2 separate regions of the Homo sapiens genome follow, and region 2 is linked to region 1. A link means that fine-mapping ties the variant in region 1 to the expression of a gene that starts in the linked region. Tissue or cell type: unexposed skin. Region 1 holds a variant in brackets; the other region holds the start of a gene. All regions are shown on one strand. Distances are from middle to middle.

Region 1 (8,000 bases):
GCAAGACATTCTCTAACCCCAACATTTATTTAGTCATGTTAAACGTGGCTGTGTACTTTGTGAGTTATGCAGCATTACTTTTAAATTACTGCTCATGTTTGAAGACTTGAGATCCCAATTTCATAGGACCAGAAACAGTCCATATTCACCCCCTTTAGTATGGCATAGCATAGTATCTAGCACATTGCTGAACATATGACAAATGTGAACACAGAGCATGGATTCAGGTATTGATGAATTTCTAGATGCTTTCTAGTTTAATTACAAAAGAACTTTCTTCCATGAATATCCAATTTACAATAGTTCCTTCCCACCATCATGTCTCTCTACTGGATTTTCATCAGAGCACTTATCTCAAAATATCCAGCTTCTCAATGTGTTACTTGTCTCATGTCGGTCTTTTCCACTGCAATGTAATCTACATGAGAGACCCCTGCTTGTCAAATATCCCTAATAGTCTACAACACTGCCTGGTGACAAAATAGATGTTAATATTTGTTATTAACATCCAGCTCCATGGATAAAATGAAAATGTTTAGAAGTTTTATTTTTATGTCTTGGTATGGATTAAACATAAAAAATAGTATGTCCCTTCTTTGTGTTTGAAGAACTTCACTAAACAACCTGTCAGATGAGTTCTAATTTGCTAAAACTTCTTTCTCCTTTTATGAGGGTAATTTTTCCTTGGGAATTCAAATGTAAAAATGCAAAAAAAAATCTCTAGAGTATTTATATTTTAAGTTTCCAAAAAGTATCTGTGATGATAGGTTATGATATAATTACTAGAACATCACATGTTTGTGTAATGCCTGAAAAATATTCCCTGGGTAGAATTAGCTAACGGTGACTGTATCATGTGTGATACCTAATTGCTCAATGGAATAACACGCTTTGTCTTTTTTGCCCCTCTTTTATGGAGAATGGGGTCTCATTATGTTGTCCAGGCAGGTCTCGAACTCCTGGGCTGAAGCTATCCTCCTGCCTCTGCCTCCCTAAGTGCAGGGATTACAGGCCACTGTACTCAGCCCAATAATATACTTTTAAGGACATTCTCCACTTATCTGAAACTCAACAGAAACATTTACAACCCAAATTAGGAATTACATGCCCGCTGATCACATAGGGCATGCCAAATGTGCCTTATCTTCAATTTTAATGCCATAATCTTATTTCTTAAAACTGTCCTTTTAGAGTTTTGATGTTCAATATACTTTTCAAGCCTTTAGTTGTGCAAGGAAAACATGCTCAATATGCATTGGAAAAAAAAAAAGAAAATCAACTCAATTGTATATGAATGGCAACACCACTGGAAAAACTCAAATATTTTCAGGTAACATAAAATACAAGAAAAATGGCATAATCACTACCGATTCAATGGCTGTGAGAATGTTAGCAACTTATAACTTTTTATTAATTAGGCCCTGATTATACTTTTTTGTCTAAAATAAGAATTTTTTACCTTACACATATACACTCAATTTTTAAACAAGTATGTATTAAAATTTTTCTGTTTACTATGGTATTTCTTTTGAGATATCAGATGTACAAAACTATGTCTTCCATTTGTAGCTGACGTTTTGGTAAAAGAAGATGACAAAAGACAGTGTACTTATTTCAGAATTGCTAGAAACCTGAGTAGAAAGAAAGCAGAATCTATATAATCTTAAAGGGAATTATTTCCAACAATAAAACATAATACAGAATGCCAGGGCCTCGATCGAATCAAAAAGAACAAATTTAGCTTAGGACTTAATAATAAACTCCAGTTGTATTATTAAAATGCAAAATTTGAAAACCATCTTGCAAAGTGACGGAATGGGCTTTGTTAACAATTGAGTTGTTCAATTTGCCTAAAAAGTGGAAACCTTTAAAAACCTCAGAGGTGACTTCCTGACCTTTACTGTATTACAAATAGGCCTGATGTTCAAGATCCACATCCATTATATGCTTGAATGAGCTCAGTATTTATTGTTCTTTCATATCATTAAAAGAGCTAAAAGGTTGGGGAAATGCATAATGTAAAGAAAGGTCAAGTGGTAATCACGGTGTGAAATGCTGTTACATGTGTAACTATAATAATTCTTTAGACTTTATGCTCCCTGGAGAGGAAGTTGTTCAAAATTGTTCACCTACCAAGGTTTATTTTGTGCTAAATATAGCTCCGCACTCTAAATGTTGGAATTAGCCTGACCTTTCGCTCCTCAGCATCAGCGATGGTCTTTTCCCGGCTCACTTTCTCCGTCTGAAGGCCGATCTTTGTGATCAGAGCTTCGGCATCATGATTTCTCAGTTGCAGCTCGGCTTCTTGAGAGGCAAGTCTGGCTTTTAGATCTCCCACCTAAAGCAAAAGTCATTATTCTTACGTCACTGGCCTTGTTCACAACAAATCCCAGATAGAGCTTATTGCTGGGAATGAATTCAGGGATCTCTAACAATTTGTATCTTGCATCTGTCTCTACCCTGATTTTCACTGTCTTCTGATTTGCAAAAATGCAGCCACATTGTTTTTCTCCACATGAGAACAAACAGAATAATATTTTCCAATGATTTTGCAGGAAATATAATTAATTTTTGTCAGCACTAACAGGTTAAGTAGGGAAGTTGCTCTTCCCTCTGTCTGACCACATGCTCCTTTACCCACGTCTGCTTTTGGGTCCTAGGCAGCTCGGGCTCAAGGAAGCAGAGGTTGTGGGAAGACATACTTGGTGATGAGCTGGAAGAACTATGCCTCTCACTGTCCAACAGAAGGTTGCTGGAGGCTTCAGTAAGTTGACGACATGAATGCTCCTTGCCTGACTGCAGATTAATTGGCTGCATATTAAAATGCCCACTGATAGGTCTCACCTCTTCCCATCAAACAGAAAATAGGCCTCTTGATTTTTTTCACCTCATTTATGATCATGAAGCTAACCCAATATTCAACTTAATACCTGCTAAGAAGAGCAAACTGTGTGTTTGGGGTATTAGTATGCTGTGGCCAAAACTCAGTGAGCTTCAGAGGCATACACGTCTCCCATCAGTCCATCACTAAATAACCTTACTCAGCTCTTGGAGAACTCAGCCTTCCGAGGAATCCATGAATTCATCTGCTAAAAAGAACTGTCCATTTTTTTCAGTTATAATTTCATCAGGTTCAGAAAGCATTACTAGGTTCCTCAGTTTGAGGGTCATGTAACTAAAAGCAGAAGTGAGGTACTAGAGAAAAAAAACATGACTCAGTTCTCAGAAATATCTGAAAGCAGCTTTACACATCACAATAATTATCTCTCCACTGCACTTCTTTTCCAAAAGTATAAATATTACCATTAAAAAATCATAGCAGCAAAGAACAATCATAACCATTTACATTTATTTTAACTCAAATGCTAAAGACATTTCAGTGGTTTCATCTTGTGGAACGACGCCCCATTACTATATCCAAGTAATCTTGTAGTTTCCACCCAACACAGTATATTCACACTCTATCTAAAAAGCATGATTACTACTATGGCTGCTACTTGTACTATTATAGATTAAGCTATGACTGATTTTTCAGCCTGTCTATAAATTCAGGGTAACTTTGCATAGTGACATGCTTCTCAGTTCTTTTTAGCCATATGAAACTAGTATTAGATTAGGCCATAGTCAAAAGAATCATCCATCAGGAAAATTCAAGTAAAACCACCATATCACTACACGCCTATTAGAATGGTTAAAATAAAAATTAGAGATGCCACCAAATTATTGCAAGCGAGCTGAGAAACTGGCTCTCTCATACACTGCTGGTAGTAATGTATTATGTCACAGCCATTATGGAAAGAATTTGCCTGTTTTCTATAAATGTAAACATCCAAGTACCACACAATTCAGTAATTTCATTTTTGGTTGTTTGTGGATTTATGCCTACAAAAAAAAAAACCTGTACACGGGTATTCATAACAGCTTTATTTATAATTGCCAAAACCCAGAAATAACCCAGATGCCCTTCAGTGGTTGAATGGTTAAATTGTGCTACCTTCATTCTGTGGAATACTGCTCAACAATAAAAAAGGACAAATTATGGATACACCCAATACCTCGGTTGGATCTCAGGGGAATTATGCTGAATGAAGAAAACCAATACCCAATGGTTACATATTTGTATAGCATTTTTGAAATGACAAAACTATAGAAATGGAGAATAGATTAGTGATGGCCAGGAACTAGGATTCAGGAGGTGGGGAAGAAGTGGGGGGTAACGTAGGTGTGGTTATAAAATGGCAACATGGGATCTTTCTGTAGATGGAAGTTTTCTGTGTCTTGACTGTGTTAGTGAGTACCCAGACCTACATGTGATAAAACTGCATAAAACATACACACACACACACACACACACACACACGTACAAATAAAACTGGAAATCTGAATAAGGTCTGTGGATTGTACCAATGCCACTTTCCTGGTTTTGGCATTGTACTAGTTATGCAGGATGCTACCATTGAACCTATAAGATGTGACAGGGACCTGTCTGTACTATGCTTTGTAATTTCTTCTGAATCTATTATCATCTCAAAATAGAAATAAAGCAAAAAGAATCACCCAAGAGACTAGGACAAAATTATGTTATTTCAAGCCCTAATTTCAGTTTCTAAGGAAGCTGTTAGCTCTGAAATATTCAAAGTGACTGAAGCCGTGGAAGCAAGGCTTTCTCTATGAAGAAAGGTCACTAGGACTATCTGTGATGACCTAAGCTGACATCTAGAGAGAGGTTATTTGGCTATAAAAGGTGCTTACAGCTTTACTGTAAAGAAGGAACATTGCTAATGTTTTCAAATGATGTGGCATTCCTTAAGGCAGACCCTTAGAGGATACATGCCCCAATATACAGGCATTACGCTCTCCATACAACCTGATCTT[C/T]TGCAATATGGTTCTCCAATTCTCCACATAGGAAACCATCCCCTTTTTATAACCCACTTATTTCTAAAACTGCCATGTAGCTATTGAATATTCCAACCACTTTTTTGATAGTAAGAGCATTCCATGCACAAATACCTAATGAAAAGAAATCACCGTCAGTCTTTCCATCAGACTTCATGGTCAATCAAGATGTCTTGTGTCTTTACAGACTTTCTGCCTGTGGTTCTTAGCTAAGGGGAAGTAAAGAGACCCAAGCAGCCCTGGACTTGGCAGACATAGTGAATCGGCCCTCCCGTCTCTCTCCTTGCCCATCCCCCTGACTCATCAATGTGTAACTGAGGTGACTATTAAGAAATCACAGTCTCTCTCCTCTTCTTTTTTCCTGTGGCTGAGATGCTGCCACCACTGGAATGGTCCAGGATGGTACCCCACTTGCTTTTAGCTCACAACCTTTAAGTATGGCAGAAGCACTTATCTCTTTGCTAAGGATGCCCCCACAGTATTGAAAGCTCAGTTTGGGTGACAATACTATCATTTCCTGATAGTGGGCAAAGTCAACAGGTTCAGTTTAGGACGGCATTCAAAGGGATATAAATGCTTTGTGAAACAGAGCTCCTTCCTCGTCTTATCTAGCCCAACAGGACTCCAGGGAAAATCTTTCTTATGGAAAGGGGTCTTGATTTAAATGAGACAGAAGAGGATAGACAGATAGAAGAAAACTGACATGGAGAGGGGCAAAAGTTAAGAAAGTAAAATAAGCTGTGAATAAAAAGAGACAGGAAAGACAGACTTGTTTTTTTTTTTTGAGACAGGGTCTCACTCTGTTGCTCAGGTTGGAGTTCAGTGACCCACTCAACACACTGTAACCTCAAACTCTTGGGCTCAAGGGATCCTCCTGCCTCAGCCTTTCAAGTGGCTGGGTCTACAGGTGTGCGCCACCATGCTCGGCTCATTAAAAAATTCTTTTGTAGAGATTGGGTCTCATTTTGTTGTCCAGGCTGGTCTCAAACTCCTGGACTCAAGCAATCCTCCCCCTTCAGCCTCCCAAAGTGCTGGGATTAAAGGTGTGAGCCACTGTGCCTGGCCTAGACAGACGTTCTTTGAGAGGAAAGGAGAAGGTGCACAAATATGGATATGCTATTTGTGGGTTTCCTAGAAACTATTCTTAATATCACTTGATCCCAACCGTCCTGGAAACCTACTCACCCTGGTTTCTCTTTCCTAATTGTGGTCCATCTACTCACTATTAGTACAGATCACAGTGTTTTGTCACAGAGTCATTCTTGGTATAGAAAACTAAGAGAAAAAGAGGCAAGTGGTGCTTTGGCCCAGAGTGACTGAAGGACATGGCCAGAGAGCCCTTCAGAGTGAAAAGGTGCCCATTTGAAAAGGTGCTCCCTCCTTCGGGTCTCAGTTCATTTCTAGCCTAGCCACAGGTGGGTTACCCAGGCCACTCGGGGAAACCACTGCCCCAATCCTTGTAAAGCATATGAGAGTCTGACCTGATGACATGACTCTGAGAAGGCCACCAGTATTTCTAGTCTTGAGGTGATCACTAGTGAGGATTCTTCTCACTCCAGCTCTAAGTCCTGACTGGCTCAGAATAAGGCTGGGCTACTCTTCAAAGTCTTCAGAGTCTCTCATTCCAATCTCTTCTTTCCAGCCACAGAGAGGCAGCACAGTGCCATGGACAACTCATGGGCATCAGAGCAACACAGACCTGGGTCTAAAACCCAACCTCACTGGCTCTCTGGCCTTAAACTCTTTACGCCTCATATATAAAACTATAGTAGTAACAACTACTTCATGAAATCCTTTTTTAACAACGAAATAATGATAATATGTGTACAGACCCACACATGATTAACATCCTGTGATGATTCTCTCCTGATTTACTCCTGCAAGTTAGAGGCATCGCCCTTCGAGGGAGCAGGGGCCTCAGGACTGAGGACACAGATGTGTAAGAGGAGCAGACAAGTCACTAAGGGAGGAACAGCTCTACCTTGGGATCTCGCCACAGTCATTAGCCAGAAAATGATGCCCTCACTGGAGGTTGAGAATCTGAGACCAAAAAAGATACTGGTCCATCCTAGGATGATAAGAACCTTGACGACAAGTACCGTGCACTGAAGAAGTCAGAGACAAGAGAGGCAATCCGCTGTGTCTGCTCCCTTCAATATCCCACACTACCTTACACTGAGTCAGGCCAGGAAGAGAACGTTTCACCCTAATCCAGCTGTGAGTCGGCCAATCCCATTGTAGGCTTTTGAAAGCAGTAGCAGTGTATTCTTGGTGTCATGAAACTGTAAATTTCACCAGCTGGCATCTTATAGAAATGGATTTAGTAGTGCTTCAAAAGGAAATATATTTTTCTGTTAAACAGCATAAATATTACTCAGTAATAACACATCCTGGTCATACCTGAGAGGCTGTGGTTTTTAGCTTTTGGATGCCGTTCACCAGGCGTTCTTTTTTCTCGGATACCTCATTTTGCTTCTTCTTCAACAGGTTCTTAAACAGTGATATTTGTTCTAGAAAACTCTTTGGGGTGGTATAGTTGTGTCTTCTCTCATTCTGGTAATATCTGGTACTCATTTCATTTACAGTGGTGTGAACATGTGCCATGAAAAGGCTAATAGAGTCTTTGTGCACTGGCTGAAAACACAAACATTACAGTTCATGTGAAATCCTCTCAAATTAAAAATACAACTTAAAAAAAATCAAGTAAATGATCATTTTTTTTCTAAAAGTCAGAAAAAAAAATGATAGTATAACCTACGAAAACTTATTTAATCTTTAAGCGCTATCCACAGGATTTGGGAGATTACAATAAAGCATTCAGCTTGAGTAACCTTCTTCTTGCCAAGTAGGACAAAGGGTTTTTATGTGCTCCACATACCAAATACAAAAGCCAGCATATACAGATCTTCACAACTTGATTTTTATCTACCGAGTGTGTGAAAGAGAAGGTGGAGAAACAGACACAATATCCTGAGAAATATTTCTGCCATTGCTTTCAAACTAAGCTTTAGACAAAGAGAAGCAATAACCCTGCAAAGTCACTGAAAAAAAAAAAAAAGCCAAAACTTAGAAACTCACAGTTTTATGAGAACTCATGTAAAAAC
Region 2 (8,142 bases), 170 kb before region 1:
ATTCTGCACAAATGTAGCCAGAGTTCATGGCATTATATAGGACATATGTACAGAAAAATGGCAGTGTTAGCATGATCTCAGGGTGGAGTTTTTGACCCTCTGACATCAAAAGGCCACCTCTCAGGCACTTGAAGAGTCAGTGGCCTCAACCAGTTTGAACTGGACAGAAGCTGGCCTAAGTTTCTGAGAAAAAAAAAAAATGGAAGCAACAGTTACCACGGTGACCTATGAACGTTATCTATAAAGTAGCCAGTGAAGTTAAGTCTCAGTGTTCAGTGGTGCGGTGTTCAGCTACTGCAGCCTTCAACTTCGTGGGAAAAGGAAACAACACCAAGAGGCAAATGACCAAAAGCAAGCAGGGGAGGCAGACCTAATGAAATTACCTCTCAGTTTCTATAGACTCATGCTGCTTCCAGCTCTCTGCAGAAGGCAGATTCTCTGGTGAGTTGTCCAGAGCACCAAACCAGCACGATTTTCTGTTATGTGGGGAGGACTAGGGAGTTTGCCCACAACTAAGCTCTGTGGGGACGGCAGAGATACTACTTCAGATAGAGGAGAGATGTTTGGGCTCCTTTTACAAAGCAAAAATCGTGGGCCAGGGTTGACATCCAATTACAGCTCTCTCACATCATTTAATGAGGTTCAATAATGGCTTTGTAGGGGAGTAAAACTTCATCTCCATCCTTTTGGGTCCTGGCTGGGTCTGAGGATTAAACTGACATAAAATAGATTAACAAGAGAAAAGCATATAGATTTGTCTAATCGAAGTTTTATGTGGCATGGGTGCCTTTTTAAGGAAATGAAGACCCCAGGATGAAGTTTGAGTTGGACATTTATATAGTGAATTGCACAGAGTAGTAAAACTGAAAATGCGATGAGGCAAAGGGGCATGGGCTAGTGTAGTTAATTGGGTGGAGAAGTGACTGAGAAGATAAGGGTTAGTTTAACAAGGTTTGTTTGTACAGATTTCCCTCAGCTTCAATTTCCTGTCTTTGATAAGAATGTGGCTTTCCTTCTTGTGTAGGGAGGACAGCTTTCATAGGGGAATTTTATCTCCTGCTTTTAAGAAACAACATTAAGTTCAGAGTGATCTTCTCCTACCTGCTTTTTTTTTTTTTAAGTGCTTTTAACTAAAAATAGTGAATATGCCAGAGCAGCATATTTTAGTGTGGCATTATTAACTCCTTTGGCTTCTAATCACAAATTTCTTACCTTGTTCAAGGTACTGGGGACCAAGTTTTTACTCTCTCATGGAAACATTTAAAAAGCAATCAAGCATGGATTTCTAGACAGACTTCTTAAAAGAAGTTGCAAACATTATGTCTTCTTTTTCTGTGTTGCAATATGTATACTGTTGCATCTGGAAGGGACACTCATTCTTGCAGTGCCATGATGAAACCCAGTGCTCACATCCCGTGAACCCTATCAGTAATAATTATTAGAAAGTATTACTGCAGTGCCATGTTTAAATCCTCTGGTTCCTTAGAGATTTTCCCAAAGCCTGACCAAAACAAAACAAAACAAAACAAAACAAAACACACCACTATATAATCAATTACTAAATACCATCAAACGTGTACAGGCTTTGCTAAGCACAGGAAGAAAATTTAGGGGTTGTCATCTGAAGACTTAGGGTTAGTTATGGCAAATTTCTAAACAGAAAGGTTCAACAGCTTACAGGTTTCCTGATACAGAAGTAGCTAGTCTAGGCTGCTTCAAGTGTTTTGCAAAATCTGACCTGCTTCAAATTTGTGCTCCCTTTTCCAAAATTGATTTGATTTAACCTACAATGAAAAGAAGTGCAAACAAGATCAGCAGTTCATGAGGAAGCAACTATCTAAAAAAAAAAAAAGAGGAAGAAGAGCTCTGATTGAATTAATTTTCACTCTAAGCTTCCTGGCAGCCAAAGGGAAAAAATACAGAAAAATGGAAAGAATGTTGGATCTGGAGGCATAAGGAATGGTTTTCAGTTTGGCAGTCTGCTGCTGTCACTTAGTGGCAGGGTGGCAGGGATCTCTTAATGTATTTTCTTAGATTCTGTTTCCTTATTTTAAAAATGTGGACAATAAGGATCTGGAAGGATATTGAGAGGATTCAAGGAGATACTGCATGTGAAGGAAAACTCTAAAGCATAATAAAAATGAAGTGGCCATAATGAATAAATAACATTATCCAATAAAAACAAAACATTTTAAGTCACACAATGTTGTATTGGTTTTACTACCACCAGGAAGTGAGAACACTGAGGGCTGGAACATGAAAGCACATAACACATGTTGTTTGCTGAACTAACCAAAGGAAGGAAGGAAACCTTTTCCATGTTTTCTCTTCAAGCTTGAGTAAATGTTTGGCAAATTTCATTCACTCGTTCAATAAAGAAAAGATGAACGTCAGATCCTAAGCAGCTGAGAGGGGCTGCAGAAGGTCCTATGCGTACAGGATGCTCTACTGTAAACCTATGACCACGGTTCTAAATAGGTGTGCAACACTGTCCAGCAAACCTGCTGTGATTTCAGGACAACTTCATTTACCATTCTCCCCACTCTCTACTTCAACTCTCCCACAATTTCCACAAACTTAATTCCTCACTCTTCATATCTGAACTCTAAGAAGTATTCCCTGACCTCTATCAGATTGTCTTCCTATTTCACACCACCATTAATACCACTTGCCTTTTTTCTCATGGCATCATCGCTCCAAATTTACATTTATTTGCATCATCATTACATTTGTCATTGATAGTGGTATCAAATTAATATTAATTATAAATCTAATTTATAAAATTTACATCGTTATTACACTTATTTGCATCATTATTGTATTTATTTAGAATAATGCAATTAGGTTGGTAACTGGCTCTCAGGCTGTAAACTCCAACAGAGCAGGGGCCTGTTTTTGTTCACCCTTCTGTTCCTAGGACTAGCCCAGTGCCTGATGCTTAGTAGATGCCGGGGTCAATTCTGTTAAATTAGTCAGCATTCCTGACCTCTACAAACTCTTTGTCTGGTGGGTGTGGAGGCCTACTGTGTAATGGCCGTCTAAAGTTTCAGGCGGGTTTGCATCTGTCCACCTGGGCCTTGGTAAAGAAACCTGGGTTGCCTGTTCTGCAAAGTGAACCCTGTAGCAAATGTTTTGGGAGACAGAATCTTCCCAAAGAGAACCCTGCCCCGTTACAACAACAAAACAAAACAAGCCCCAAAGCCGCCCTACAATATTTGCCTGGATCAGAGACAGGGGTTGCAGCAGAAGCTCGCGCCCCAGGGCATGACCTGGAATAAACCCTGCCAAGTATCCAGCGCGCGTGCCAGCTGGAGGCTGCGCCGGGACAGCCCCCTCATTTCTCCCGCGCTAAACCCCGCCGGACGGCTCCACTCCCTCCCTCTGCTGCAGGGGGGAGCCCGGCGCCCTAACACTGGTAATTGCTCTTGCCGCGCCCAACTGCAGCCCCCTCTCGCGCCGCCTGCGAAGACAAGGTCAGTGGCCGCGAAGTTGGAACGTGATCGGAGCCACGAGGCCCAGTGAGGCGGCACCGAGGGGGCAGCGCAACGCGCTCCCCCTGTCCAGGGCGTCAAGTGCGCCCCTCCCGGGGCCCGCCTGTGCTCCGGGCGGAGCGCGCTAGCTGCTCGGGCGCGGGGCGTTCTTGGTGCGCCGGGCCGTGGTGAGTCCGGGCTCCCGTGGCCGCGTGCTGGGAGGAGACTGGAGCCCGGTTAGGAAGAATGGAGTTGGCGACTCGCTACCAGGTGAGGGTCCGGCCGCCCGCCGCCGTCCGGACGCACCCACAGTTTGACTTCCCTTTGCCACCCGGTCCTGCTGGCCTTGGGCTGGAAACGTGGCCCTTGGCTGCGGCACTGGGGATCTGGCGCGCCCAGCCGGTTGAGTGCCGGAGTGGGCGCGCCCTGCAGGTGTGCGCAGTGGGTCACGTTTGTGCTACGCGGACCACAGAGGCCGGTCGCCCCAGCACACAACCGCGCTCAGCCTGGCGCTCTGCTCAGTCTCGGGTGGCCGCCGGGGGTGCAGGCGGGGAGCTAGCGGGGCGCAGCGCCTGCGTTTGCAGCCCTCGTGAGACGGGGGAGGGGCTTTTTTTGTGCACTCCCCACACTTTCTCCGGGAATTGGCACAGAGATCAGGAAGCTTAAGAAAGTTGTAATTTTTTTTTTTTAACAGTCGATCGCCAGACCAGTCCAACTTGGATAATGGAGTTTAAAAATAATAACTTTAGTGTTTATTCTAGAACTTTTGTAAACGTTTTCAAGGAATTAGTAACCATTTGGGGGAAATGGTAACGTCATTGGGCCGAGTTAAACAAGCTGCAAGATCCCAAATCATATGCACAGCACGACCCCAATTACGCGTTAAGGGCCTAACTCGTCTTTAAAACTCATTAGCAAACACTTGAGTAAGTTCCCCCAAACGTTTCAGTGAGTAGTGGGAATGTGAACGTGACTTCAGTTTTCTCTTTTTACTTCTTAAAAGAGCTTTTCTCTACGTTATCGTAATGGAGATACATGTTTACTTAGAAGTAAGCAATAAAAACATTTTTCATAAGAACTAAAAATACAACCTTTAAAAAGGGAAACAAGCAGCCACGCCTCTGCTTGTGGGAGCACGGAGATGCTTTGTGCGAGGATTGTTTTTTTTTTTTTTTCCACTTGTTTTATTGAGAGTCGCGAGACTCACTGCTTCCACCTTGCTTCCGACTGGTGTTTACTTTCCTCCACCTGCGTGCCTGGCCCGGGAGAAGGGGAGGCGGGGCCGCCAGCGTTGGAAGGCGCAGAGTGCCCGGCGCCCGAGCCCAAACCGCTGTCACCTGCCCGAGTCTGGCGGCAAAGACTGAGCCACTAACGGTAGCTTTGGCCTTTTAGTAATTTCTGAAGCCTTCCTGAAAATGGTCGCTTGAGAAAAATCTGTTGTTGATGTTTCTGAGAATATTTTTAAAATGCCTCCTGTGAGATAAACTATTAAAAGCAAGGGAAACAGTAAAGCCTACGGAATGAGACAGGGTTCGATTTTTTATTTTTTGCCACTGGCTTTTACCGTGTATTAGCATCCTTTTTTTTTTTTTTTTTTTTTTGGAGACGGAGTTTCGCTCTTGTCCGGGGTGGAGTGTAATGGCGCGACCTCGGCTCACTGCAACCTTCGCCTCCCGGGTTCAAGCAATTTTCCTGCCTCAGCGTCCCGAGTAGCTGGGATTACAGGCGCCCGCCACCACGCCTGTCTAATTTTTTGTATTTTTTTTTTTTTTTTAGTAGAGACAGGGTTTCACAATGTTGTCCAGTCTGGTCTTGAACTGCTGACCTCAGGTGATCCACCTGCCTCGGCCTCCCAAAGTGCTGGGATTACAGGCGTGAGCCACCACTTCCGGCTGGCGTCCTAACCTTCTAGGAGTTTCTGTTGCTACAGGACTAAAAACAAAAAACAAACCCTCTGGATGGAGATTTGAGCTCCTTGTGAGTTTAGTCAGAAAATGTATCTGGAATTTATCACTCCGGAGCTCCTTGTGAATGTAATCAGAAAATGTTTCTGGAATGTGTCACTCCTGTTGTTAAGCTGGAGAGTTCTTTGCACTTCCACTACTGATATTCATAATTCATGCTTAGGAAACTCAGAAGTCCCAGAATGTGTAGTTGGAAGTGAGCGTTTACTGCCACACAATGAGGCTAATTTTTGGTAGTTCTAAAATGTTAAATAAACTATTTATCATGTAGGGGTTACCCACAAATTATATCCGATCCATTATGCACCAATTAAGGCAAATTACTATATGTAAGATGATCAGGGTTTTTTTTTTTTTCCTTTTCTGAAGACCTAATTGGCAGTGCAAATCAAAGATGTGTGATGGTTTTTCCAGTGGAAATGTTCCTGTTCATCGTAATTTAAATGTGCACAGATTATAGTCTCTAAATTAGTGGAGAGTGGTTCTGTGGGGTGGGCAGGTGACTGCGGATAAGAACACTTAATGAACATTTCAGGCACAGCAAGATGTTAAATTCGTGTGGTTCCACCCTGTCCCCCAGCCTTATGAATAAAGCAATGTGATGAACCACCTGAAGTGGCATTACTGCACATCAAATGTCGCTCAGCTCAGTGTGCAGTGGGTTTTCATCTCACACATTGGAGTAAGTATAATTTCTATCGCTTGGAAAGCGCAGAGCTAAGTGTTTCAGCAAAGCAGCTTAGGCCTAATGTTATGAGTAAGAAGCAAACAAGGAGACTCATTTACTCTGAACTACTTTCGAGTCTGCTTTCCTGCCATCCCACCAGTGTGTTGGATTTGATGTCCTCTGACAGTGATTACGCTTCCCCCAGGCTGTAGTCTTGTCGTGCTGACCACTGTGTCTTTGTGCTTTTATATAAAATGACAGAAATAGCTCGTAAAGGCAAGGGTGTGATCCCTGACTAAGAGCTGTCAACAGTGCAGCTCATGGGAGCTCCAGCTTGCTGCAGCTCCGTAGGAGAGAAACTGGTAGGCACTGAATGTCAGTGTTCTCCTCGTACTCTGTTCTAGCTCCAGAGTACAGGATGGCCCATTTGAGAAGGAAATGATGCTAAATGTTCTTGTAAATAGGCAGGAGCACGCTGTTGAAGGGGTAAAGGGGTATTTTTCTGGTATTGGTCTCTTAGCTGCAAAGTGCTCCCATCTGATCCTGTTGTTTAACATGTAATTCCAGAGCCCCAGAAGCTGGTCACAGAAAGGACAATGATTTGCCACTCTAATAGTCTTGTATTTAAAACGCTCCTTGGTTGTTCTGTGTTCTGCTGGCTACCCCATCCATAGCAGAGCAGGATTCTCAAAAATCAGGCGAAAACCTCAGAGATCATAATGATTCTGATCAGGTACACAGGCCAGGAAACAATGAGATAATTGTGGCCTAAAACAATTACAAACATTAGAGTAAATTAATGAAAAAGATTAGAACATCATTGGAATAGAATAAGCCAGGCATTACATTTAAACTGCTCTTGAGAGTTTTCCTTTACTCAAAGTTATGTTTTAGAATATTTACCTCCAGTATACAGTTTTGTTTTAGAAAAGACTCGGCTTTATTCACCAAAATGGAATAGATTACAGGCTACTTAAAGTAGGTAGGGATAGAGATAAGAAAATACTACTGGGGCCATTTTGTTCTTTTTGTTTATGAAAAGCAGTGCTTTCTGTAGTTTTTTTGAAATAGGACCATTCAGAGGCATATTTGGTAAATACCACTGAAGTTAACACTCAGAAAAATGTATCTTCCATAGTAGTAAATGCTAGCACCCTGCATGCAGCACAGAAATAAAGTGTGGAGTCTCACAGTGCAAGGGGCCTGAGCTTTAGTTCAAATAAATCGTTGATGTTTCCTGCCTGTTTTCCTTCATGATCATCAGCTGAGGATAGAGGGCTTGCTGACTGGGTTAGTACACTGATCAGATAGTCAGTTGAGCACCGGTTATGTGCTAGGCATTGGTAGGGTGGAAGAACAAAGACACAGAAAACACGCCTCTTTCCCCACACTCTCTACCAGAAGGCCATGCTTGAACTCCCTTCCTCTTCTGCTTTTGCCAGAGCTCAGCTGGCTCCTGCTCTGTGCTATGGGGACCTGGGGGACCTTGGGTTTGGAGAGTAGAGGGAGACCTTAAGAGCCATCCTTTTTTGCCCCCAAGGAATGGAAACTATCACTTCCTTTTAAAAGTCATGCTGTGCTAAGTACTTAAAAGTTATCAGATTTAATCCCCACTGTAGTTCTGTGAAGTAGGTTGTGTTATCTGCCTTTTAAAGATAAGGCTAAATTGACTAATTTGCTCAGGGCAATTTGTAAGGAATTGGCCCTTGCTGCTGGAATCACCGGGCCTTGGTGAGTCAGGAAACTTGCCCTGTTCCCTCCTCCCTTTAACTAGAAGGGCTGGAGTGTTAACAGCAGCTAGTCTGGTTCTTTTTTAGGAACTCACCAGATTATGCTTTATACTGCCTGTAAAAGTCAGTTTGGGAATGTGAATAAGATCCACCAAGCTTTTACATAGGAATGACTTTTATGTGAAATTTGCATTGTACAAACAATAACATGTTACCGTAAGCTGCACTGAACCACTTCTCTGCTTCCCCTACTCTCCGTGCCCCATTTTCTGCAGTTTCCATGAAGTGTTTGCCTGTAGCACAGTCGTCAT

Which allele goes with the higher level. Positions count from the first base shown, and alleles are read on the strand shown. Sizes are in standard deviations (SD) of each study's normalised expression.
For the expression in unexposed skin of the gene that starts at base 3,622 in region 2, T is the low allele of the variant in region 1 and C is the other (small effect, 0.33 SD a copy in GTEx).

The links. PIP is the estimated chance that this variant, and not a neighbour inherited with it, causes the effect.
Region 2: CDCA7L starts here. The variant in region 1 is fine-mapped to the expression of CDCA7L in unexposed skin (GTEx, PIP 0.97).

What each region holds. Positions count from the first base shown.
Region 1 is chr7:21,773,296-21,781,295 of GRCh38, reverse strand. DNAH11 (dynein axonemal heavy chain 11) reads right to left here. Exons shown (of 82, transcript NM_001277115.2): 56 at 7,297-7,530; 57 at 2,192-2,338. Among named protein-coding and RNA genes, the nearest start is that of CDCA7L, 170 kb to the left of the region's middle. The variant C/T (reference allele first, on the strand shown) is at 4,876.
Region 2 is chr7:21,941,379-21,949,520 of GRCh38, reverse strand. CDCA7L (cell division cycle associated 7 like) reads left to right here and starts at 3,622. Exons shown (of 10, transcript NM_018719.5): 1 at 3,622-3,740. The coding sequence starts at 3,717. RefSeq lists enhancers at 3,024-3,273, 2,958-3,668, 3,664-3,813, 7,327-7,947 and a silencer at 3,954-4,003.